Homo sapiens: one gene and its partners. The protein of the gene in region 3 purifies or fractionates together with the protein of the main gene of each other region. This does not show direct contact. Each region holds a gene or a part of one and is shown on either strand. Other genes may lie near its edges.

What was found.
Region 1: the proteins of HPN (region 3) and LSR purify together in Homo sapiens (co-immunoprecipitation; 2 studies listed by BioGRID and IntAct, with this or other methods). This does not show direct contact.
Region 2: the proteins of HPN (region 3) and GALNT7 purify together in Homo sapiens (co-immunoprecipitation; 2 studies listed by BioGRID and IntAct, with this or other methods). This does not show direct contact.

What each region holds. Positions count from the first base shown.
Region 1 is NC_000019.10:35,252,002-35,259,033, reverse strand, and holds part of LSR (lipolysis-stimulated lipoprotein receptor isoform 2 precursor), read right to left. Parts: intron 90-7,032; coding exon 1-89. UniProt on the Homo sapiens protein: Probable role in the clearance of triglyceride-rich lipoprotein from blood. Binds chylomicrons, LDL and VLDL in presence of free fatty acids and allows their subsequent uptake in the cells.
Region 2 is NC_000004.12:173,171,811-173,178,842, reverse strand, and holds part of GALNT7 (N-acetylgalactosaminyltransferase 7), read right to left. Parts: intron 1-7,032. UniProt on the Homo sapiens protein: Glycopeptide transferase involved in O-linked oligosaccharide biosynthesis, which catalyzes the transfer of an N-acetyl-D-galactosamine residue to an already glycosylated peptide.
Region 3 is NC_000019.10:35,044,720-35,051,751, forward strand, and holds part of HPN (serine protease hepsin precursor), read left to right. Parts: intron 1-4,543; exon of another isoform or gene 4,544-4,570; coding exon 4,571-4,672; intron 4,673-4,755; coding exon 4,756-4,797; intron 4,798-5,726; coding exon of another isoform or gene 5,727-5,802; intron 5,803-7,032. UniProt on the Homo sapiens protein: Serine protease that cleaves extracellular substrates, and contributes to the proteolytic processing of growth factors, such as HGF and MST1/HGFL. Plays a role in cell growth and maintenance of cell morphology.

The DNA.
Region 1 (7,032 bases), 210 kb from region 3:
GTTCCCCTGGAGGTCCTGGGCTGAGACCACGGAGCAGTAATACACACCACTGTCCCCCCACGCCGTCTGGTCAAAGGTCAGGTCAGCATCTGAGTCGGGATGAAAAGGCGTGAGGGCACCTTGGAGGCTGGGGCACCTAACCCCTGGAGGGCCAAAGACCCCTTCCCAGCACACCCAGGAGGGGGCAAGCAGTGGGCTGGGCAGGCTGCAGATGATCAAATGCATATGCAAAGATTCCTACCAAGGGCACACGGCCTTTTACACCCCGTTCTAAACACCTGGACTACTGCAAGAAGTCTGTGAGGCAGGACCATTATCACTTCTGTTTTGTGGATGACATTTCGGGTCTGGAAAAGCTGCACAGCTCTTCAGTATAGAGCAGTAATGGTGCCCTCGGAGCCTGAGGTTGTTTTTTTTTTTCTTTCTTTAGAGACAGGGTCTCACTCTGTGGCCCTGGCTGGAGTGCAGTGGTGTAATTATAGCCCACTGCAACTTCAACCTCCTGGACTCAAGCAATCCTCCCACCTGAGTAGTTAGGACTACAGGCACTCCACCATGCCCAGCTTTTTTTTTTTTTTGTTTGAATCGGAGTTTCACTCTTGTTGCCCAGGCTGGCATGCAATGGTGCGAACTAATCTCGGCTCACTACAATCTTCGCCTCCCAGATTCAAGCAATTCTCCTGCCTCAGCCTCCCATGTAGCTGGGATTATAGGCACCTGCCACCACACCTGGCTAATTTTTGCATTTTTAGTAGAGATGGAGTTTCGCCATGTTGACCAAGTTGGTTTTGAACTCCAGACCTCAGGTGATCCACCCCCACCTCAGCCTCCCAAAGTGCTGGGATTACAGGCGTGAACCACCACACCCAGCAGTCTGTGCTTCTCAACTTACAGCCATCTCTGAACCACCTCTCAGAGCCAAAGTCAGAACTCCCCTGATGTGAACTGCCACCCACAGGGCCTAGTGTAGACCCCAGGGATGGGTGTGGAGATAAACAGGCCAGATTCTAGGTACCAGGAGATGCCCAGGCACCCATAAGGAGTGGGTGTGTCTATGTGGGAGAGAGAGACTTACCCTCCCAGTGCCTTGGTTCCTCCCCCTCCCCTTCCATCCCCACATTCCAGGTCAGGCCCAGGGCTTGGGGACGCTCTTGTCTGAAGCAGCTGCAGGCAAGGAGCCTGTTAACTCTACCATCCATCAAAGTGTTTTGGCACATCCTGTTTCCTCTCTGCTTCTCAGGCACTAATTAAATACCTTCAGCCTTTCACCAGGGTGGGACCAGGGCACCTACCAGGCAACTCTGCCTTAAGCCACTGGGGACAGAAGTAGGCTACATTGGGCATCTCGGGCAGGAAATGCCCTCAGCTTCCCGGCCTCTTTCCTCCTAGCCTGACCTGCCTGCCACCTTCCCAAGGACGCGCTGCCCTCCTGCATGACAGCTCTGTGACGGCAGCAACCACGCGTGCTGCAGTCCACAGCACCTGGCACCCCCAGGAATGAAAGAACCCTTGCTTTCTTCATAAGGAAGGCCTCATGTCTACAGAAAAATCCTCCTTGCAACAGTGTCTGGCTACAGCATTCCAGACGCCTTCCCTAAGGTCCCATAGTCCCATGGTCCCCAAGGCCCTTGGCACGACGTGGTCTCTAGCTACCGTGCCAGCCTCACCCCTGCCATCGCCTTGGTTCTAGATTTGCACTGTCCCCCTGTGGGCTGGGCTTCTCCCACGGCTCCCCCACCCAACTGCTGAAGTCTTATCTCCCAGCTTAGGGGCCGACCATCCTTTGCCTGGTGAAAATGTGGGCTCCGTGAGGCAGAGCCCTGTCTGTCTCAGCCACTGCTGGGTCCCCAGTGCCTGACACAATACCTGGCAAGGAGCAGAAATGAACACCCTCTTGGCCGGACATGGTGGCTCACACCTGTAATCCTAACACTTTGGGAGGCTGAGGCAGGTGGATCACTTGAGGTCAGGAGTTCCAGACCAGCCCGGCCAACATGGTAAAACCCCATCTCTACCAAAAATGTAAAAAATTAGCTAGGCATGGTGGCACGCACCTGTAGTCCCAGCTACCCTGGAGGCTGAGGCAGGAGAATTGCTTGAACTCAGGAGGCAGAGATTGCAGTGAGCTGAGATTGCACCACTGCACTCTAGCCTGGGCAGTAGAGTGAGACTCCATCTCAAAAAAAAAAGAAAAAAAAGGAAACGAACCCCCTCTCCTCATGCTAAAGTCCCTTAGCTTTTGTCATCTGTCTCATCATTCTGGGCACATGGCTGGATTCAAAGACACATTTCTTTCTTTCTTTCATTCATTCATTCATTCATTCATTCATTCATCCTTCAACAATAATTACTGAGTACCACCTATGTTCTAGGCAGTATTTGAGACACCTGGGATACCACAGCAACAGTTCTCAAACTGCAGCCTCTAGACCCTGGGGTTCCCCAAGACGTTTTCAGGAGATCCTGAGGTCAAAGTTATTTTCCCAACAATACTAACTGTGGAGTTTTCCAGAGGCTACGTGACATACAATAGATATCACAACAGACTGAAGCAGCTCTGAGAAGCCAGGCTCTTCTATCCAGCCAGGCTTCGGAGACTTGCAAAAAAATAAAACCATGCCACCTTCTCATTCACAATGTTTTGTCTGATTTCAGAAAATGATTATTTTTTTCATAAAAGGTATTTTATTTATGTTAATCTATAATGACTTTATTGTCATTTAAACTATTTTGTAAACTTTTCTCATTCTGCTGCCTATGAAAACAAACTCTTTGAGCTCTTAATTTTTTTTTTTTTTTTGAGATGGAGTCTCGCTCTGTTGCCCAGGCTGGAGTGCAGTGGCACGATCTTGGCTCACTGCAGCCTCTGCCTCCTGGGTTCAAGCGATTCTCCTGCCTCAGCCTCTTGAGTAGCTGGGATTATAGGCGCCTGCCAACATAACTGGCTAATTTTTGTATTTTTAGTAGAGACAGGTTTTTCACTGTGTTGGCCAGGCAGGTCTGGAACTCCTGACCTCAAGTGATCTGCCCGCCTGGGCCTCCCAAAGTGCTGGGATTCCAGGCATGAGCCACCTCGCTAGGCCTGAGCTCTTAATTAACCTCAAAATCAAGAATATAAAAGAGGCCTAAGCCCGGAACCTTTGAGTTATAAATCCTTGCCCTTGCCCTTCTAGAGTTCAGATTCTAACTAGGAAAGAAAGACAAATATAAAATGTTAACTATGTCACATATCAGACAAAGATAAGCTGTATGGAGAAAACGAATCAGGGACAGCAGAGAGTGCCAGGCGTGGAGTGGGGGCTGTGCCATTTTAAACAAGGAGGCCAGGGAAGGCTTCCGGATATGGTGACCTTCAGAGCAGATGTGAAGGGGTTGAGGACACGACTTACCCTAATGATCAGGCATCTAAGCCACTGTTTTTTTGTTGTTGGTGTTGTTTTTTAATTTTGAGATGGGATCTTGCTTTGTTGTCCAGGTTGATCTTGAACTCCAGGGCTCAAGTGATCCACCTGCCTCAGCCTCCCAAAGTGCTGGGATTACAGGCATGAGCCACCGCCCCTAGCCCCCACCGTTTATTGAGCTCTTACTATGTGCTGGGCCCCTCTACACACATTCTTTCATTGAATCCTCATAGAATTCCAAACTAGGTTCTCCTAAATCCCCAGGTTTGCCACAATGCCCTCTTCGTCCATCATTTTTCCACCTGTATCTTTTTTGAGAGGGCCTAGCTTGGTCGCCCAGGCTGGAGTGCAGTGGTGCGATCATGGGTCACTGCAGCTTCGAACTCCTAGGCTCAAGCAATCTTCCCATCTCCAGAGTAGCAGGGTGTGCCATCATGCCCCGCTAAATTTATTTTTTTGTAGTCTCTGGGTCTCACTGTGTTGCCCAGGCTGGTCTCCCAGCTCCTGTCCTCAAGCAATCCTCCTGCCTCGGCCTCCTGAAGTGCTGGGATTACAGGCATGAGCCACCAGTGTCTTCAGATCAGACCCTGACCGTGCCTCTTCAACACTGGAGCTCAAGAGCTGGTCCCTGCTATAAACAAAAGAGGTGGACAGGAACCGCCTGCCATGGCAAACAGATCATATAGGCCAGGGGTTGAAATCTGGCATCTTGTAGGCCGAGGCTGGACCTCACTGTGTTTTGTTTGACCTGTCTGACATTTTCAAAACTCACAAAAAATATAGTTTTCCGGCTTCTTTTGATCCATCCTAAGGTCTGGGCACACCTTCTTCCTGCAGGGCGTACCCTGTTCCTGGTCTTGGGCTGGCCGTGATCTCATCCGGGCTGAGCACTGCTTTCATTGTTTTAGGTCGGGGAGAAGATGCCAGGTCTCCAGTGGGAACAGCAGCCAGGCCTCCTCCACATCTCCAACCTCTGGTTCCTTCTTTATACACCGCAAAGGTGACCTTCATGATTTCAGAGGTCCCATGGGCTCTCTGCTGCAGTGCAGCTGGAGGTGGGGGCACTTGGACCCCAAGGAGCCCGAGGAGGTGGAACAGGGCCTCCTGTCCAGGTGCTGGTCCATCACCCAAAGCATGGAAGGACAAAGCAGGGAATGAGCCACCGGACCGGAGGGATGCCTGGAGTGGACAGCCTTCTACCTTATCCAGGACTATTTTCACTTTTGAAACCAGGATAGGCCGGGCATGGTGGCTCACATCTGTAATCCCAGAACTTTGGGAGGCCAAGGCAGGCAGATCACCTGAGGTCAGGAGTTTGAGACCAGCCTGGCCAACATGGCGAAATCCCATCTCTACCAAAAAGATACAAAAATTAGCCAGGTGTGGTGGTGTGCACCTGTAATCCCAGCTACTCAGGAGGCTGAGGCGGGAGAATCACTTGAACTTGCGAGGCAGAGGTTGCAGTGAGCTGAGATTGCACCACTGCACTCCAGCCTGGGCAACAGAAAAAAAACAACAACAACAGAAAAACCCCAGCACAGTGGGTGACCCTAGGAACACCACGGGGAGTCCACTTTTCCCCATCCTCAAAGCTGAAACAGAGGAAGCTCCTATGGCTATGGGATTTCCTGAAAGGACACACACAATGGATGTTTACACTCAGGGCCTTGATCAAACACAGGCCCAGGTGGGGGTGGTTTGAAAGACCCAGGCCTGTGAGGCCCCTGGAGCATGCAGGGCCCCTTCCCCGAGACAGAGCCTGGGGGGTCATCCTGGACTTTTGCGTCCAGCAGAGGAAGCACCCTCAGTATTTGGCTTGTCCTGGCAGAAGCTTAGCAGTCACGCCTGGTCCAGGCAGGCACAATCCCTGGGTTAGAGAGGAGGGGGCCTAAGCAGCCCTGTGACCTCAATAACAGTAGGATGCTCATGGCTGAGCTGCCCACAGAAATTCAGGGCAAGCAAGCCTGGTGCCTCCTCTGAAACAGGACTGACATAGGCTCAGCCCCTGGAACCCTGCTTCCCATCGATCCTCTAGCAGAATGTGCTCCAGTTCCTGGCTTCTTGGGGTCTGCAAAGGGATGCTCCCTTCCCCGCTCTGCCCCATGCCCAACTTTAAATTCTTGTTTAAGACAGTGAACACACACTAAGACATGAGGTACGTGAGCCTTCATCCCTGGCACCCTGCCCCTCCCCTTCCTCTCTGCCTTCTAGGTTCTGTAAGGCCCAGGCCCAGGCCCTCCTCAAATCATATTCACAGCCCAAGTCATTCCATGTAGCACATCACCCAGTGCTATTTTCTTTTTTCTTTTTTTTTTAAGACGGAGTCTCACTGTTTCCCAGGCTAGAGTGCAGTGGCGCAATCTTGGCGCACCGCAACCTTCGCCTCCCAGGTTCAAGCGATTCTCCTGCCTCAGCCTCCCGAGTAGCTGGGATTACAGGCGCCCACCACCACGCCCGGCTAAATTTTGTATTTTTAGTAGAGATGGGATTTCACCATGTTGGCCAGGCTGGTCTCGATCTCCTGACCTCAGGTGATCCACCCACCTCGGCCTCCCAAAGTGCTGGGATTACAGGTGTGAGCCACTGCGCCCAGCCTATTTTCTTTTCATTTCAAGACAGGGTCTCACTCTGTCACCCAGGCTGGAATGCAGTGGCACGATCATGACTCACTGAAGCCTTGACCTCTCAAGCCCAAGCAATCCTCCCACCTCAGCCTCCTGAGCAGCCGGGACCACAGGCACATGCCACCATGCCCAGCTAATTTTTAAATTTTTAAAATTTTTGTAGACATGGGGTCTCATTTTGTTGTCCAGGCTGGTCTCAAACTCCTAGGCTCAAGTGATCCTCCTGCCTTGGCCTCCCAAAGTGCTGAAATTTACAGGCATGAGCCAATGCACCCAGCCTGGTGTTATTTTCTTTGCAACACTTAGTACTCTCTGACATTCTTATACCTTGACGGAGTCTTTTTTTTTTTTTTTTTTTTTGAGACAGAGTCTCACTCTGTCGCCCAGACTGCAGTACAGTGGTGCGATCTCAGCTCACTGCAACCTCTGCCTCCTGGGTTCAAGCGATTCTCATGCCTCAGCCTCCTGAGTAGCTGGGATTACAGGCATGTGCCACCATGCCTGGCTAATCTTTGTATTTTTAGTAGAGACGGGGTTTCACCATGTTGGCCAGGCTGGTCTGGAACTCCTGACCTCAGGTGATCCACCCACCTTGGCCTCCCAAAGTGCTGAGATTACAGACGTGAGCCACCGTGCCCAGACTTTGAAATTCTCATACTCTTTCTTTATCTGCTTATTTACTGCCAGTCTCACTCCACCAGAATGTCATCTCCTTGACGACAGAAACTTCAGCCATCCCAATCACCTCTATCCCCAGCACCAACGACACATAGTCGATGCTTGATAAATACCAAATGAATGAATGAATGACTGCCCCTTACTTAGTCCCAACAGGCACATCCTATCAGGAGGCAGCATTACAGTTAAGAACAAGGGGCCGGGCGCGGTGGCTCACGCCTGTAATCCCAGCACTTTGGGAGGCCGAGGCGGGCGGATCACGAGGTCAGGAGATCGAGACCATCCCGGCTAAAACGGTGAAACCCCGTCTCTACTAAAAATACAAAAAA
Region 2 (7,032 bases), on a different chromosome or scaffold from region 3:
GTAATAACAGATTCCTATTGCTTAGAAGCCTATTCGCAGACTAGTTGGTATTGATATAATACTATAGTTAATCGTACCTTCTAGATTTGGGAAACCAGGCTGCTCTGCACCAATTCTATAAACCTAATTAGATAATGTAAAGTTAAATTTTTCCTCAAGTTTCAGTGTACCAGTTCTTGTATTCAGTGAAGTGAATCAGGTCTCCCTGTCGGCATGTTTAAATGCTTCTTGGGAGTGATGCCTGAAAATGCTTCCAAGGCTGGGAAGCCCAGAAGGGAATTTATAATGGTGCAGAAATGAGAACATTTCTCATTTGGAAATATTCAGGATTCTTAGCAAATTAAGCAACTGAAAGTTAGCTCTTCCCTTTCCAAAAAGACATAGGCCCTAGGTGACTGCAGTTCATGTTGTCTCAGTGTTGCTTTCAGGATCACAGGGCTGAACTATAATTTAATGATAAACCTCATTTTTAAAAACTAAGAGTATTGAAATGCTGAGCATACATTTTCTCTACGCTGAGAATAGCATAGTTTTGCTATTGTTTTTTTAATATCCTTCAGTCAAATTAATGTACTAAAAACTAAAAATTGCCTCATGTTCTCAGAATAAAATTTATTTTCCAACTTTAAATATTAAATTGGTTTTCTAGTCACAGCTTTTCAAATCACCAGATTTCAGACATGAGTAAAAAAAGACTAATATGTGTTGCAATATCTATCTTATATAGTATTATATATGATCACAACTAAAATATATATACATAGGTGTCTGTGCGCACGCGCGTGCGCGCACACACACACACACACACACACACACACACACACACACACACACAGACTTGCGGATAGGGAGAGGTGGAAAGGCACATAAAGTTATGGTAGCCCAGATATAACCAAAAATGGGTTAAGTTCCTCTTTGATAGTTACAGTTCTCTAATAAAACTTTTTCTCTATTTGTATTTTTCCCATAGTGAAGATGACTCTTCACGACCTGAACTTCTTTATCATCTGAACCAGTTTTTCTGGGCCACAATATTTACTGAGATGCTAATGATGATGCTGCTGTAGTCCCTCTCTAGACCAAAGTACTACTGGTTAGGTTAGCAGGCAGGTAATGCTTCCACAGCCACTCGTTTCAGCTTTCATTCTAATCAGTTCTCAAACATTTTAACATCTGAATTTGTTGATGGCCCTGTCCTTAAAGAAATTATTTTTGCTCACGGTTAGGCAATATCGTCTAAGTCATTTTACTTCTGTCTATGCCTTCTTTCATCTCTCCCCACCAACCTCCTAGAGCCTAAAAGAAGGCATTTTCCATGTTTCTTCTTAATACACACATTTTTCTCCTCCATCCACACAGGCTCCTTTAACTTACCAACCCACTCCCTGTGCTTCAGACACCACCCTCTGGCCAATGAAATGCATCCACTTCTGATTCCATTCTGAGCTCCATCGACCTGGTTAAGACACCTTCACTTGACTGACCTGTGTTCTATAAAATACTATATGCCAAACCAAACCAAATTTTTCATTTTCATTTTGCAGCCCCCAAATCTATATAACCTCTAGACTGGCACTCCTCAAAGCATGATCCCTGGACCAGCAGCATCAGCATCCCCGGGGAACTAGTTAGAAATGCAAATTATCTGCTCTACCCTAAATCTACTCAATCAGAAATTCGGGGGATGGGGCCAAGTAATCCGTTTTCTCACACCCTCTAGGTGACTCCGAAGCCTAAAGAAGTTTGAGAGCCAGTGCTTTGGACAGCTGTATTCCTTCTAAAGGCATCAACATCCTTTCCTTTACCATCAAGAATGATTCCTCCTCCCACTGGGCAATTCTATTATACTTCCATAATCTCTTCCTCTGTATTCAGTTTCTAGGTCCTTCTCCTTAGTTTAAGCTTCATTATATCCTTCGGACATAATTCTCTCCTCACTAAAATCTAGCTTGCACTGTTTCCAGATTATTCCTTATAGCCCAGCTCTGACCATTCAAAGTCTTTCATGGCTCAGATTCTATTTATCTTTCTAGAGTCCTCTCTTCCATTCCACCCCTCTCCAACCCAATTTTCAGCCATGTAGTCCCCAGGATTGGTCACAGTTATTTATGCTGTTGCACAGTCTCCTCTGTCCTCATCTCTCCAGCATCTCTTTTTATAAGACAAGCTCTCTGACAGCATCCAGTCCCATACACTAGATGCTCCTTTCTCTGTGCTCCCACAGGACTCAGTGGACTTAACTAATACAGTTTTTGTCTTACCCAGCACAATTGTTTACTTGTGCATCTGGCCCACAAACTGTGGCCAAAAAGGGTTATTACTCATTTTATTTATCTAGGAAAATACACTTTAAGCAAGACATCCATATAATTTACCATCCAACCCAGGACACTTCTGAGAGTGAAAGGATAATAATGGCTAATGGGCAGCAAATGTAAACTAAAACAAATAATCACCCTAATAACAGACCACAAGAGCCACACACCCCCATCATCTGAGTCCTGACTACATCTTCAAGCTCATCCCGTACTGTACTACCTCCAAACTCAACAAACTCCGGCCATACTGGCTTCAAATACTCCAGCCTCATTCCAACCTCAGGAATTTTGCACTTCTGTTCCCTCTGCCTGGAATGCTTTTCCGCCAGATTTGCATGATAGTCTTACACTTACTCCTGAAGACTCTGCTCTGGCCATCACCTTCCCTGACATTCCCTGAGTGGTCCCTTCCAACCCATTCTCTTTCTTTTTGTTTTTAATTTTTTTTTTTTGAGATGGAGTCTCGTTTTGTTGCCCAGGCTTGAGTGTAGTGGCGCGAGCTCCACTTACTGCAACCTCCGCCTCCTGGCTTCAAGCAATTATCCTGCCTCAGCCTCCTGAGTAGCTGGGATTACAGGGGTGTGCTACCATGCCTGGCTAATTTTTGTATTTTTAGTAGAGACAGGGTTTCACCATGTTGGCCAGGCTGGTCTCAAACTCCGGACCTCAAGTGATTCGCCTGCCTAGGCCTCCCAAAGCGCTGGGATTACAAGCATGAACCACCGCACCAGCCTCCCATTCTCTTTCATATTACCATGTACAGATGTTCCTCGACTTACAAGGGGTTACACCCTGCAACAAACCCACTGTAAACTTGAAGAATCATAAGACATCTTAAGTCCAGATGTGCTCAGACTTATGACAGGGTTACACACCGATAAACCCATTGAAAAGTCAAAAATCGTAAGCTGAATCATGGTAAGTCAGGGACCATCTATATTGTCTTCAGTGTTTATCTGAAATTACCCAGCTAGCGTCTACATATCCACCTTTTAATGTAGCCCATGTGTACTTGTCTGTGTTGTTAAAAACTGTAGTGCAAGATCAGAGAGCACAGCTCTGAAGTTAGAACACCTGAGATTGAATCCTGGCTCTACAATTAATTAAGTGAATAAACTTGGACAAAGAGTTCACCTCTCTATACCACAACAGTCTCATCTATAAAGTTGGGATTCCATCGGACTTGCAATAGAGGGTGGTTGTTACAAATAAACAACCAAATACATGTAGAATATGTATTAGGCCCAAAGTAAGGATTCAATATATGTAAACTATTATTGTTGCTGTTATTACTGAAATCTTTAATTTAGTTACTTTTCAGATTGTACATTCATTCTTCAGGAATGAGAATCGAAATTCAAAATATGAACAAAGACAATTATCTAGTTAGGAGCTGAATAATCACAGTCATTTTCCTTCATTCAATAGCTACTCAAATCTTGCTGACCAACTTTTTTAATAACTCAAGTTAGAATTTCCACATATTCTGTTTACAGATGGCTCAAGCTCAGAATTTTGCTTTTCATTCGTGAATTATTTTCTCTCTTCCTCTTTCTCCAATTTACTATTGTCTAACAGTTTATACAGGAACCCAAATCGTATCTCACACGTTATCTCCCATCCCATGCAACCAGCCTAAGTCACAAAATAGACTGCTGTTCAAAAGTTTTCATTCTCTCTTTACTAGTAACTGTGCATTCCCCAAAGGCCATTTTAAGCCTTCTCCACCTACTGGTTTGACTACTGATGAAACATATCCTTGTGACAGTTCTTGTATTATTTCTTTACATTGCTACTGGATTAAGCAATAGCTCTCCCCACCCCCAACTAGATTGTGAGAGCAGGAACTCCCACTTCAGGTGTTATCAGTATTCTTCATGAGGTCTTAGGGAGGGGAGGATGGGGATGGGGGAGGGGCAAGCAGGTGGTAACAGGGCTGATGCCTGACCTCACATAGACCACTGGATGGAAAACTTTTCCACAGAAGTGATAAATACAACAATTCTTAGGAATTCGCCAAACATTTCCGAAATGTTCAGACCTATGTGGGAGACATAAATGGATGTACCTTAGTTTCTTTGAAAAATATTTAATATGTGCCTTCCATAAAATTAGCACCAGGAAAGATGGAGGAAATACTCAACAAACAGGAAACATGAACCCTGCCTTCAAAGGGCACATGGTCAGTGGCTGGAAGCCTTGTTTGGTTTAGAGGACACTTTAGGAAACATGAAAGCTTCTGATTATCAACCTAGAAAAAAATGTAGATGTATGCAAAAGTTCTGCATTAATTTCAGGAAGTCTATAAACCCCAGACTTCTCAGACTTGGTGATGTGATATTTTTAATCATTATTATGTGTGGGGGGAGAAGGGGGATGGGACACTGAAAACAGCAAAGGAAACAAAAACCAATCCTAAGGTGTATAGCCTGGGAAACTGAGAGAACAGTGACCACTTAAGACACTACACTTTCACTAAGTGATAGCTCCATCCCTAATAGTATAAACAGAGCTTCCATTTGAAGTACAATCTCATGTTCAAGGGCAGAATTTTTCAGGTTACAACTGATCATCACTGAGATAAAATGGCTTTGGTAAGGTGGAACTTGACTGCCAGGGTAATCAGTTCAGCCACTAATCCTCATTTAAGCTATATTCCTTTCAAACCTGTTAGCTTGCCTATCACATAAAACCTCTTGGCCTACTAGTTCCTGAATTAGTCCTATTATATACACCCTGAACCTAAGTGGCATTAATGACTTGACTAAAGTTGCATTTGCATATCCAGAGAGTCATTAGTTTACACACAGCTTCTCACCAGTACTGAATGTTTTAATGCAGGGGTCCCCAACCCTGGGTCATGGAGCATAAACCCTATTGTGAACTGCATGCAAGGGATCCGGGTTGCACACTCCTTATGAGAATCTAATACCTAATGATCTGAGGCGGAACAGTTTCATCCCCAAACCATCCCCCACCCAACCCAACTCCCCCAGTCTGTGGAATAATTGTCTTTGACAAAACCAGTCCCTGGTGCTAAAAAGGTGGGGGACTGCTGTTTTAATGGATCTGTCAACATTTCCTTTAAAAACCTTTATTTTCAGAGGCTTATGGGTCAACTGTAGACAGTCACTCAGGGCTAAAACCTGGGATAAATGGTGTTAGTCTGGGACATAATTTATTTAATTAAAGGAACTTTCTGTGCTTTGCAAGTCCAAGCAGATAATCTTAATAAATGCTGACCTTAAAATATCCAGAGGGCAAAGACTAAAAAAAAAAAAGCTTCCCATAATCATAAAATACAATACAAGAAGGTATACATTTTGCTTTGAGAACTTTCCATAATGAAACAAATAATCTATCATCCTAGGCCTCCTGACACCTTCACTACCATATCCAATAGCCAAATCCTGATGCCTTTGCATCTTTAGGAGCTCTTGAATCAATTTATTTTTTTCTATCTCTACCACCGCCCTGCCAATCTAAGCAAGGATTATGTCCCACCTGAATAATGATGACCCCCACCAGGACTCCTGCTACCTGTTCTATAGACAAATACATACTTTCTGTAGGCAGCCAGAGTGATCTTTTCAAAACACAAATCCACTCTTCCCTACTTAAAATCTTTCAACGGCTTCTCACCGCACTTAAGATCTCCTCCTTAGCATGGACTACGAGACCCATGCTTTCCTGTGTGGCATCATTCTACTTGTCATTCTCCACGTTCCAACAATATTTATCTCCTAGTTTCTCACTATTTCACTCATGCTACCTCCTGCCTCAGGACCTTTGCCCAAATGCTCCTTCTCAAGAATGCTGCCACCCACTTCCAGATTAACTACTTTTCTTGAAATGTTCAGATTTCGCCTCAAAAGTCAGAGTAGGCAGCTAGGCAGACATGAGCAGGGCAGGAAAGGCCCCCCACCACCAGGAATGTCAGGCGGCCATCAGGTGATGGTCAGGCCGTTGTTAAACTGTCTCTCTGAAATAATAATTGGTCGCGCCAACACCATGGAAAGGCAGTCTCCCATTAGATAGAAAACACCTAAAGCTGGTTATCAGCAGGTTCCCACTAAGATCTCAGGAGTTGGGCAAGTGGGCTCCAGCATGTGCACTAATAGGCAAAATGGCAGCTTTTAACTAGTATATGCCCTTCCTCTAGGAAGGCTCAAATTGTAAGGGAAAAATGCCTCAAGTGAGCATGAGTAAAACTTCAGTAAACACACTGCAGGCAGCCCCTCCCCGCTGCTGGCAGGCCACTGCGCATGCAGACAGCCCACCCCAAGGGAAGAATCACGGGAGAAGAAACGCAAACCCTGGAATCATGCCAATGTATAAAACCCCAAGTCCAGGGTCAGACGAGGTACTTGGATTTCTCAAGTAGCCCACATGGCCTTCTTCAAAGTGTACTTCCTTCCGTTCCTGCTCTAAAGCTTTTTAATACTCTCACTCCTGCTCAAAAATTTGCCTCGGTCTCTCACTCTGCCTTATGCCCCTCCAATAAATTCTTTCCCACAGGAGGTAAGAATCGAGTTGCTTCAGACCTGTGTGGATTTGCTACTGCTAATAGTCATTTCTTCAAGTAAGGCTTTTATGACCAAATTCCTCCATTTTCTTGCCCCCTATGGTTTTCACTATGAAAGCAGTAGCACAATTTTTATTTATATATTTATCGAGGTTTGATTGCTGTGTGGTTTTTACAAGATCCATGAGA
Region 3 (7,032 bases):
AAATGCCAGGCTGAGGGACTTAAGCTGTCTGGGGGGTACTAGGGAGTCACAGAGGGTTCTATAGGTAAAGAGGGGACAGGTTGGATTTGGTGTCTCAGTAGGTTCCCCAAGCCTCCGTGTGGAGGGTGCGCTAGAAGGGAGACTGAGCCCAGCGGTTGGATGGGGCCGGAGCAAGGTGCAGATGGAGAGAAAGAAGGAAACGGGGGAAGGAGAGTCACTCAGGAGGATTGGCAGGCTGTCGGGGGAGGGGAATGTTATGCAGATGGGGATGGTCCTAGGAGTGAGGGCCTCTGAGACAGGACCGGGAGGAAGAATATACTTGGGGAGACATTGGGGAGACATTCTGGGACCTGGTAGGGGCAAAGGGACTAGGAGGTCCCAGGGAAAGGTATTTAAAAGGTATTTAAAGGACTGCAGGAGCCCTGACCTGGGACCTGGAAGAGGGTCTAGGGCTGGGGACAGAGGGGAAACTGAGTCCACAGAGGTGGGTGAGACAGACTTAGGGGCAAGGAGGAGCAGGGGGAGGCTGCGGCCAGCCCTACAAACTCTGGATTTTACGGAGTAGGTAGAGGGTGGGTGAAGACAGCAGCCTCAGAGGCGGGAAGGAAAATCAGGTGCGCCTGGTGTCCCAGAAGTCCAAAGAGGAGAGCATTTATACAGGAAGCTGCAGTCATGTAAGATGAGGCCCGAGACACGGAGCCACCAGTTGAGTGGATTTTCAGAGCCAGAGAGCCAAAGGTGTTACGCGTGGGGGTCTTTGCAGCCAAATGGTGGAGGCGGAAGAACTGACCTATGAGAAGACCCAAGGCATCCAGAGGGGCCTGGAGAAGCAGGGGCAGAGAGTCTCAGGGAGATGTAGGGGTGGGGGAGGTCTGGCTTACCAAGGGAAATAGCCCTGCTGCTGGGATCAAAGAATTGATGTTGACGTGCCGCCTGTCCCAGTAGAGACACGCAGGGAGGATGAGGATGCGTCCCACACCCTGGGCCAGATGAGGATGCTGCCTGTCCCAGTAGAGACACGCAGGGAGGATGAGGATGCGTCCCACACCGTGGGCCAGATGAGGATGCTGCCTGTCCCAGTAGAGACATGCAGGGAGGATGCCTCTCATACTGGGGGAACCCCAGGATGCAGATGCTTCCTGTCCCACTGGAGGCGCTGAAGTCCTCTGAACCACACAGCATGGAAGGAGGTTCTTCCTCTCACCCTAGGAGACACATACATAGTGGCATTGCTTCCTGTCCCACCAGATGTGCCAAGGCCTCTAGGCTGCATTCTGCATGGCCTAGAGCCCTGGCAGGCACAGCTGAAAACAAAGCAAGCAAGACCAGCCCAGTGGCTGTCGGGAGCCAAGACCTCCTGCTGGAACCTGGAGAGTGGTCCTGGGCAGAGTTGGGGGGCAGGCCTGAGAACCCCTCGCAGGACAGGCAGGGGTCAGCCGGCAGTAGTTGGGCTGGTCTGGCCCACTGGGGCCTCTTTTGGGGAAGAGAGTGTTTCCTCATGCCTTGATGGGAGCCACTGAGCTTTCAATTTTTTTTTTTTTTTAATACAGAGTCTCGCTCTGTTGCCCAGGCTAGAGTACAGTGGCGCAATCTTGATTCACTGCAACCTCCACCTCCCGGGTTCAAGCGATTCTCCTGCCTCAGCTTCCCGAGTAGCTGGGACTATAGGCGCCCGCCACCACACCCAGCTAATTTTTGTATTTTTAGTAGAGGCGGGGTTTCACCATGTTGGCCAGGCTGGTCTTGAGCTCCTGACCTCAAGTGATCCACCTGCCTCAGCCTCCCAAAGGACCGGGATTACAGGCATGAGCCACCATGCCCAGCCTGAGCTCTCAAATTCTTAAGACACCCAGATAATGGCCACACCAGGAAGGTCCTAGACCACTCCCTGCTCTGTTCCAGGTGCTGGCCTGGTGCCGGGTTCACCAGCCACATCACCATGGGTGCAGATGGGCGAGCTGGGAGCTCCTGCCACCTTGGGGTGCTTTGCGGCTGCCAAGGGCAGTTGAACCCAAGCCAGGCCCAGCTGAAGGCTTTCAGCAGCCTTTACTCTTTGGCCTTCTTATAATCCCTAGTGAAGGGGTTGGCTTTTATTTATTTATGTATTTATTTATTTATTTATTTTTTGAGACAGAGTCTCGCTCTGTCGCCCAAGCTGAAGTGCAGTGGCGCGATCTCGGCTCACTGCAAGCTCTGCCTCCCGGGTTCAAGCCATTCTCCTGCCTCAGCCTCCCGAGTAGCTGGGATTACAGGTGCCTGCCACTGCGCCCGGCTAATTTTTTGTATTCTTAGTAGAGACGGGGTTTCACCGTGTTAGCCAGGATGGTCTCGATCTCCTGACCTCGTGATCTGCCCACCTCGGCCTCCCAAAGTGCTGGGATTACAGGCGTGAGCCACCGAGCCCGGCTAGGAGTTGGCTTTTAATCTCCAGGACCTCTTTGCCCTGGGAATAAAATCCCTTTTCCTGTGCCACCAGGCCTCCCCAGCTGGCCCCAGCCTTGGTTCCCACTACCTTCCCCAAGCTCTGGCCATCTGGCCATCTCGATGGCCTCTCCAGCCTCTGACATAAGAGAGCCTGCTTATTCTTGCCTCAAGGCCTTTGCCTGTGCTGTTCCCTCTGCCCACAGTGCCCTTCCTTGTGGTCTGTGTGTGGCTGGCACCTCACCTTTCAGAGCTTAGCTCAGAAGTCTCCTCTAGGGGAGGCCCTGTGATCCCTGATCCCCTGCAGAAGCCCACCTGCTGCCCCAGCCTGCACGGTTTTCTTCACAGCCTCTGCCACAATCTGGAAATTATTGGGTTCATTTACTTGTTTCCTTGTTAATGTCTCCCACTCCCCACCTACACGCATGAGAACGTGAACCCCTGAGAGTCGTAACCTTATCTGTCTTCTTTGGGTTATGTTCCCGGAACCTAGAAAGGTGCCAGGCACACAGCGGATGTTCAGTAGGATGGTAAACAAATAAAGCTTCTTTAGGCTGATGAAAAAACTGAGGGTCAGGCGCGGTGGCTCACGCCTGCAATTCCAACACTTTGTTTGGGAGGCTGAGACAAGCAGATAACTTGAGTCTGGGAGTTCACGACCAGCCTGGTCAACATGGCAAACCCCGTCAATACAAAAAATACAAAAATTAGCCATGTGTGGTGGTGTGCGCCTATAATCCCAGCTACTCGGGAGGCTCAGAATTACCTGAGCCTGAGCGCTTGAGACTGCAGTGTGCCATGATCGCGCCGCTGCACTCCAGCCTGGGCAGCACAGTGAAACCCTGTCTCAAAAAAAAAAAAAAGAAAAAGAAAGAGAGAGAGAGAGAAAAAGAAAGAAAGAAAGAAAGAAAGAAAGAAAGAAAGAAAGAAAGAAAGAAAGAAAAGGAAGGAAGGAAGGAAAAGAAAAAAACTGAGGCTGAGGCTCAGAGAGGGGAGGGGAGTTGCTCAGGCCCACACATCTCTGATGATTTATAAAGCATTTATAGAGAACTTGCTATGTGCCAGGCACTTCCGCACAGTGAGAGCCAGGATGGCTTCGTGGCTGTACACAGGGGACCTGGCATCAAACCTGCCCAGGGTTCTGGACGCTGCTCTGCCTCTTCCAGGCTGTCACTGTGGGCACGTGACCCCACTTCTCTGAGCTATCTCAAAAACAGGAATCATAGTTGTGGGATTGAAATAAGGACTAAATGAGCTGATGTATTTAGAACGGTGCTTAGCACCTGGAGGCATCAATACAATTTGAGCTATTCTTCTTCTTCTTGAAAATAACTTTAAATTATTATTTTTAGAAGTAGGTGCTCAGTGGATGCCCATTTAATAGATAAGAAAGTTGAGGCTCAAAGATATGATGGCACCTGCCTTAGGTTCCAGCTAGGAAGGGGTAGGGTCAATATTTTTAAATGAGGCTGGCCAGACGCAGTGGCTCACTCCTGTAATCTCAGCATTTTGGGAGGCTGAGGAAGGAAGATCGCTTCAGCCCAGGAGTTTGAGACCAGCCTGGGCAACATAGCAAGACCACGTCGCTAAAAAAATTAATACATAAAATAAAATGAGGCTGGCAGATTTTCAAGTGGAGGGGCAAATTTGATCTTGCAACTGGGTACCATGAGAGAGGTCTGATTTAGGGGGTATCTAGGGGCAAAGCATCTAGAACAGCAGAAACGACTGAGGCAGCGAGGAAATGCCAGCGGCAGGGAAGAGAGCTACCAAGAGGGCAAAGGTTGGGGGTCACAGTCCCAAGAAGAGATGGCCCAAAGCAAAGACAGAAATACAAAAGCACAGTGTCACTGGGGAGGAGACATTCCCTAAGTGCCAGGAAAGTGCAGGGCGGAGGTGGAGACCGTGGCAGGTGGCCCGGCCATGCCCCCCTCCCAGCTGGAACCCTGGGGGAGCTGGGCACCTGGTTGTTCACACGGCAGGGGAGGAACAGCCCTGTCAACTGCTGGCCCCGGGAAACTGGGCCTGGGGAGGACATGCTTGGGCATAATAAGTTAGCCCTGGGGGCAGGGCAGAGCTGGCCTCGGGCCCAGACCCTGCCGCAATGAGGACAGGCCTGGCTGTGGCCCCAGCATGGTGTCTGTTGCAGGTGGCCGGACTGTGCCATGCTGCTCCAGACCCAAGGTGGCAGCTCTCACTGCGGGGACCCTGCTACTTCTGACAGCCATCGGGGCGGCATCCTGGGCCATTGGTGAGAGCGGTTCCTGTGCCTCTGACCTCCCCTGGCCCCTGCAGCCTCCAGCCTGCCTGCCCTCACCCCTCCCTTCTCTGCAGTGGCTGTTCTCCTCAGGAGTGACCAGGAGCCGCTGTACCCAGGTGAGTGGAGCAGGCTGGGACCCTCTGGGGGAGCCCTGGAGGACACGTGTATCTGGCGGGAGCTCAACAAGCGTATTTGTTGAATAAATGCACAAATGCATGCAGAAATGCTAATCATAATAGTGCATTTGTATTGAGTGCCTGCTATGTACCAGGCACTATTCTAAGCACCCCACATGTCTAACCCAGACTTTTTCAGACACCAGTGTATTACTCATGAGTGCCTCATAAAATTAAATTAGTGAGTTGGAAAACCATGTTTTTTTTTTAAGTATGAAATAGATTCGATTACAGACTATCACAGTACATCTCTCAGTAAGTAAAGGTTATGCTAATTTTTGTTTGTTTTTTTTTTTTTTTGCATCCATATACATGTAATCCCACTGCATCCCCACACTCTGAGGGTGGGACTGTTATTCTCCCTGTTTTACAGATGGGGAAACTGAGGCTTTGAGCAATGCAGCAGTTTGCCCCAGACTACAGAGCTATGGGCTACATCAGGATGTAAAAATGTGTTTCTTACTGCGTGGCATGGTGAAAACATGTTGGGGAGGCATGATATAAATTCAGTGGACCCTTCTAACTCTCCTAGGAGGTAGTTTTTTTGTTTGTTTGTTTTAAAAAAGAAAAAAGTCTTGCTCTGTCACCCAGGCTAGAGTGCAATGGTGCAGTCTCAGCTCACCGCAACCTCTGCCTCCCAGGTTCAAGCGATTCTCCTGCTTCAGCCTCCCAAGTACCTGGGAATACAGGCGTGTGCCACCATGCCCAGTTAATTTTTTGTATTTTTAGTAGAGATGAGATTTCACCATGTTGGCCAGGACGGTCTCTATCTCCTGACCTTGTGATCCACCCGCCTCGGCCTCCCAAAGTGCTGGGATTACAGGCATGAGCCACTGCGCCTGTCCCTGGTAATTAGCTCCATTTTACAGATGTGCAAAATGAGGACCAGAGAGGACATGCAGCTGGGGAACGAGGGGCCAGGAACAGCTCTTAGACTTATCCACTGTAAGTGTGTCTGCAGGCATGTGGAATGAATGGCCACACAAATAAATAGATAAAGAAACTAACTGTGGGATGAATGAATGAATCTTCCCAAATGCCAACTTCAAGCTGCCATTCCCTGATGCAGGACAGCAGGAAAAAAGGGGAAGTTGGGTGGTGGGATGTATTTTTCATGTCTGTGAGCCTCATCTAATTCCATAAAGGATTCAGTTCACACTAAAATCAGAAATGAAAATCCAGACAAGAAAAGCCAACATCAACATTAATCATCATTACCAGCACTTAGCATTTGTATGCACCAGCCAAGGCCTTGGGACCTTATGATATCAACTCATTAAGTCTTCCCAACAACCTGTTGTTTTTCTTTTCTTTTTTTTTTCTTTCTTTCTTTCTTTCTTTTTTTTTTTTTTTTTTTTGAGATGGGGTCTTGCTCTGTCGCCCAGGCTGGAGTGCAGTGACACGATCTTAGCTCATTGTAACCTACATCTCCTGGGCTCAAGCAATCCTCCCATCTCAGCCTTCTGAGTAGCTGGGACTATAGGCTAATGCCACCATGCCTACACAAAATTATTTTGTCAATAACAAATTATTGTTATTTTTATCTTTTTGAGCCAGAGTCTCGCTGTGTCGCCCAGGCAGGAGTGCTGTGGCGCGATCTTGGCTCACTGCAATCTCCATCTCCCAGGTTCAAGTGATTCTCCTGCCTCAGCCTCCTGAGTAGCTAGGACTACAGGCACGTGCCACCACACCCAGCTAATTTTTGTATTTTTAGTAGAGGCGGGGTTTCACCATGTTGGCCAGGATGGTCTCAAACTCCTGACCTCAGGTGATCCACCCGTCTCGGCCTCCCAAAGTGCTGGGACTACAGGCATGAGCCACCACACCCAACCTCATTTTTTAAATTTTTAGTAGAGATGGGATCTTGCTACATTGCCCAGTCTGATCTTGAACTCCTGAGCTCAAAGCAGTCCTCTCAGATCAGCCTCCCAAAGTGCAGGGATTACAGGTGTGCACCACCACAACCCATTTTCCTATGGGGATGCTGAGGCACAGAAAGGCTGAGTGACTTGCCCCAGGTCATGGAGCTAGTCAGTGTCAGGGCTGGGATTTGAACCCAGGCAGCCTGCGTAGTAACTGTATATAGTGTCTACACTTGATTGCTTGTTAAAAAAAAAAAAAAAGAACAGCTGAATTCATTGCCATAGTAAAGACTGACATATGCCAGGCCCTGGC